Regions from separate parts of the Homo sapiens genome. Here region 2 is linked to region 1. The links come from fine-mapping of genetic effects on gene expression. A gene starts in region 1. The other region holds a variant in brackets. All regions are shown on one strand. Distances are between the middles of the regions.

What was found. PIP is the estimated chance that this variant, and not a neighbour inherited with it, causes the effect.
Region 2: its variant is fine-mapped to the expression of FBXL3 in whole blood (INTERVAL, PIP 0.98).

Annotation. Positions count from the first base shown.
Region 1 is chr13:77,025,886-77,028,385 of GRCh38, forward strand. FBXL3 (F-box and leucine rich repeat protein 3) reads right to left here and starts at 1,274. Exons shown (of 5, transcript NM_012158.4): 1 at 942-1,274. RefSeq lists silencers at 815-874, 895-1,174, 1,345-1,394.
Region 2 is chr13:77,608,617-77,611,640 of GRCh38, forward strand. SCEL (sciellin) reads left to right here. Exons shown (of 33, transcript NM_144777.3): 21 at 442-501; 22 at 1,431-1,490. Among named protein-coding and RNA genes, the nearest start is that of SCEL-AS1, 3.6 kb to the left of the region's middle. The variant C/T (reference allele first, on the strand shown) is at 1,518.

The sequences.
Region 1 (2,500 bases):
TATCAAACTAATATGCATTCTTTGGCTGAACTACAAGAATAAAACACTATAAAGAGGTTAACTCACAACTAAATGCTTAGAGAGCGCACAGTGGCGAAAATCTGTCTACAGGTCATATAGATAGATAGATAACTGATAGTTGATGGTATTTTTATAAATATTTCAGAGATAACAGAAACTAAGTTACTTTTTTTTCAAGTTAGAAAAGGAGGATTCTAATTAAAAAATCTGGGTCACTCAACTGGATATCATTAGCAACGACAAAATAAAAATGATCTCTCTCACCTCTCAGCTTGGAGATACAGACCATTTACTGGGCTGCTTCCTGACCCCTGTCTGCAACCCCACCTAAAGGACTGCCCACGCCAAAGGCAGACGCGAATCCGCTCAACACAAGTTGACCAAGTTTTTCGCCTGGCTAAGCGGCAGGGGCGTCCCCTCCTCCCTGCGCCACCTCCCCACCGACTGGCTTCCCCTGACATTTCTCATGCGCCCCACCCTGGGCAGTTTGCTTTGACATTTCAGTGCCTCATTGCTCAAGCTACCAGCACGGGCGTAGCCGACGCCGGGAGAGCCCACAGAGTGCGAGCTCCATGGTGCCTGTCACCAGCCCCCGCCAAGGGTCATAAAGCCTGGCAGGAGCCGCGGCGAACCCGGGAGCGGCGGCGTCGCGGGCAGGCTGCAGGCGGCCGCCGCACACGCACCACGCCTTGTTGACATGTTTGGAAGCAGGCACGGCGGGGAAACGCCCCCAAGCAAGCTCCAAGGTCTGGGTGCCGCGCCCCGCGCCCCGCCCGGCACTCCTGAGGAGCGGCCCGCGCGCGCCCCGGCCCCCGCGCCCCCCCCCACCCCACCCCACCCCGGCCCGCCCACAGACGGTCCGCGGTCCCTCCCCGGCTCCGCCGTCGCAGCGGGGCTCGGCCCTGCCCCTCCGCCGTTACCTGCTGCCGGGGGCGGCTTCCCCCACACACCACCCCGTGCTCCGGGGACGGCGGCGGCTGCAGGTCCCGCGGCTCTCACATGAGGCGCCCCTGGCCCCCCGCTTCGCGCTCCCGCAGCCGCGGCCCCCCGCGCTCCGCCCGCATCCGAGGCGCTGGTCCCGCGGAGGGCGCCAACGCGGCTCCACCTTTGCGGCTCTGGCTGCCCAGAAAGAAGCTTTCCTTCTCAGTCCCGCGCTGTCTGTGTTCAGGGATCCCCGGCGCCGCGAGAGACTACCTCAGCGAGCGGCTGCCACCGCGTAAGCTTCCTGCACCTGGGCCACAAACAGCGAGTCTAAAATGGCGCCCAGGGCTCGCGGCCGCGCGCTTCCCTGGCGCGTCCCCGCCCAAGGGGGCGGGAAGGGGGCGGGGGGGGGGCGGAGCCCGGCGGGAGTAGGGCCGCGCCCAAGCGGGAGCGCGCGCTGCGGCCGCCCCAGTCTCCTTGCTGTGGGACGAGCCTCTGCCTTCCTGCCAGAGATGTGACTCCCGCTTGAAGGGGATTTTTTTTGTTGTTTTGAGATGGAATGTGGGAGGGCTGAAGCTAGCTATATGTGGAAGAGACTATCTGTGGCTGAAACTGGAAGGTTTAGGGAGGTGGAGCAGAAAAAAGAAAGGAAGGAGTCTCGCCGGAGCCTGCTGGGGACCGCGGCCCGCGGGTGGCCGCCCCGGATGCCTGAAACCGAGGAGTTAAATACAGTCTCCGAAGACCCGCGCATCGATGTGCATAAGTGGTGCTTAAAAGATGCCAAGGAAATGTACCAGAATAGTGAGAGTATTAACGCTGGGATTGCACATGGTTTTTGTTTTTCAAATATTTGTATTTCCCAATATTTCTAAAGTGGCTTTTATCATTAGAGTTATTACATTTTAAAAACGACATTTGCTTTATGAAATAGAGTCCTGAAATTTGTAAATAGCTTTTGAAACGCAATGGGGAAAGTAAAGGATTACAAAGCTGCTGAAAAGAAAACCTCTGGTGAATCCTTTTGTAAATCAAGGCATCTTTGTAACTGCTACCTAGTTGACTTGTTTTAAAGTTTGGATTTTTTGATACTGCGTTTTCTTACAGTTAGAAACATTCTTAGGTGCAATATCATTAAGTTGAATCATGCGCCATTCCTCTCTACACCTCCAAAAAAAAAGAGAGAAAGTAGTTTTCCATTCAAAGATGTCTTAGAACACTCAGACCCATGTATAAGACACTGAAAAGCAGTGGTGCCCAGGGAGCTCTCCGTTCTTCCCGTTTTCTCAAGAAATTGAGCTAGGAAGCCATGTATAAAGTTACGTCGAAGTTCAGTGTGAGGCCAGGAGTGGTACAGGCTTATGTCTGTAATCCCAACATTTTGGGAAGCCAAGGCAGAAGGGTTGCTTGTGGTCAAGAATTGGAGACCAGCCTGCGCAATATGTCCAGACTCTTGTCTCTACAAAAAAATAGAAGAGTAATAATTTTAAAAAATCAGACGAGCTTGGTGTAATCCCGGCTACTACTCAGGAGGCTGAATCGAGAGGATGGCTGGAGCCCA
Region 2 (3,024 bases), 580 kb after region 1:
TGTTTTTTGTCACTTGATAGTTGTTAGGAATGAATGAAATAATGGGTATAAAATCCATTTTTTAAAAAAGGATATTACAAATGGAAATTATTAACAAAACAGTTTAGTTATAGCTATAGCATTAGATGGAATGCTTAGGGGAACCAGGTGAGAATTTTTAGCAGATTATTATGTCACTCATTAACTGATTTTTTTTAATGGCGTCTTGCTCTAATTATATGGTTTTATTTTGGGGGTAAATGAGAAACTACGTCAGTGTACCAGTGATTGGTAAGAAGGTCACAAATTTTAGTCTTTTAAATTAAGAGCATAGACTGGTATCAATTTATCTCAAAACTCAGTAGTAAAATTTATCTTGAGTACATGTATCCTTTAAATCAAAACAGTCAATTGATTTAATTCCATTTTTATTTATGATGTTTTTTGTTTTTTTGTTTGAAGTTCCAAAGACCTTAATAACTTCATCAAAGTGTATCCAGGAACAGAAAAAAGTACTGAAGGGTAAGATTTAATAAGCTCCCTTTTTTGTTTCATAGTAACCAATGCCTAAAAGTATAATTAAAGCATCATTTCAGCTGACTGATGCTGAACCCAATGATCCTTCAAGAAAAGCCATGTAACCCTGCTACCTCACATCTGAAATGTTAAAAATTTTGGTCAACCAATTTCTGATACAATGAGACAATTACTCTTTGACTAATCAGGAATAAAGTTGTTTTCCCAGGATGGACTGGACATTTTTATTCATTGATTTATTATTTTTCTTAAGCAGAAGGGATGGATGACACAGTAGAGGGGAAAGAGAACTAGACCGGACCCCATAGTTGTGGGTCTAGGCCTGTCTCTGCTCCTCTTACCTGTGTGTGCTCAAACTAGTCACTTCTGTTTGGGCTTCAGTTTCTCATCCTCAAAGTGAGGAAATTGCACGAGGAGCTCTCCCAACACTCCCAAATCTAATTCAGTTACTAAGTTCCAATAGATATTTGGTGTCATGGTAAGGCACAGGCATTCTGCAGCCAGATTACCTAGCTTTAAATCCCACCTCTGTTACCACTAGCCATGTGGGAAAATTACTTAAGGTTTCTGTGTCTCAGTTATTCCCTCTATGAAACTGGAATAATAATACTTCCTATGTCATAGGATTGATGTGAGTATTAAATTAGACAAATCATGTAAATCACTAAGAAGAGTGCCTGGCCTGGGACATCAAACATTTTCTAGAAGTTCTTATTCATTATTTCTCTCCAGTTTTAGTTAGGTCCCTATATGTATATTCACAGTCAACACTGAAAACCCCCAGCCCTCTGAGATGATCTCTAATTTTATTATTTTAATAAATATTTTATAATAAAAGTATTTCTCTGTTTTAACAAACACTTGAAACCATTCGATTTAAATCTACCACTGATCTGATTTTCTATGTTTTTAAGGGGCCAAAGTCTCGACAGCCTCATTAAAGTGACTCCTGAAAGAAACAGAACTAACCAAGGGTAAGGTTTATGGAACTCTCTATTTCT[C/T]CCCCCTTTTTTTTTCCTAATGAGCTTAAAAACATGACAAATTGTGCGGTGGCTTACGCCTGTAATCCCAACAGTTTAGGAGGCCGAGGCGGGAGGATCACAAGGTCAGGAGATGGAGACCATCCTGGCTAACATGGTGAAACCCTGTCTCTACTAAAAATACAAAAATTTAGCTGGGCGTGGTGGTGGGTGCCTGTAGTCTCAGCTACTCGGGAGGCTGAGGCAGGAGAATGACATGAACCCAGGAGGTGGAGGTTGCAGTGAGCCGAGATGGCACCACTGCACTCCAGCCTGGGCAACAGAGCAAGACTCCGTCAAAAAAAAAAAAAAAAAAAGATAAATTGCATTGTCCCGCCATAGAGACAACCAATGATGGGACCCAAATCAACAGATCCTGTGTCAGAAATCTAGTGTTCAAGCACTTACCGAAGGCTCTCTGGCCACAGGAGAGAGAATTCCTTGAAAGACAGGAATGATCTCTTACCAGTATGAGATTGTGTTCCATGCTGAGGATTTCCTTAAAAATTAATGGGGATTCCCCATGAGACAAAACATCACCCCAAACAATTTCCCTGATCTAAGTAGCCTAAAGAAAGGTCTTCATATGATAAAAAATTCTTCCTCCTTCTTCTTCCATCATGTATTACCTCTCTTCTTATTGTCTACCACCCAAACAACTCTTAAAGTTGGGAAGTCATTTAAAAAATTATTCTCAGTTCATTGAAAAAAGAATGACATTTGTCTTTTATATAGAAAGAATCTTCTCTAAGACATATCATGTTAAGTAAATAAACAGGCATAACAAAACCACCAGCTTGTAAATGTATATTGTTATATGAATTTGAACATGAGTTAGATGTAAAAGATACCAAGATATATATCTTCTCTCAGCAGATTTCCTATCTTATTTTGCATATTGGAATACAGTCTATTTTACAGTATGTGGCTATCAAACAGAGCTTATTTAGACTAGATCAGAGGTCAGCAACTTTTTCTTAATGGGCTAATAGTAAATAGTTCTGGTTTCAGGGACAAAATTGTCTCTGTTTTTAACTAGTCATCTCTGCCAATAGTGTGAAAGCAGCCATAAGTACCTTGTGAACAAATGGGCATGGCTGCGTTTCAATAAAACTTTATTTACAAAAGCAGGCTGCAAGTTGGATTTAGCTTGAGGGCCATAGTTTGCTGACCCCTAGACTACACAGTATTTTATTTGAGTGTGTGAAGAGAATCAAATCTGACTGTAGTTGAAGTGGATTCTGAAATACAGCCTACCACCCCCCTGATTTGGCATATATTAATACAACTTTATTTTTACTGTTGAGGGTCAGACACTAAATCCAGAGACCATATAATTACATTACACATTAAGATTCAGTGAAAGACAGTTGCCTTTTCCCTCTCCCGAGATGACTTAGTTTCTAAAGGTGAAGATGGCCTGATTATTCATGGCCTTTCCTTTATAATGTTTGAGGCTGTATTTTGGTAGCCACATGCTGCCATGTAT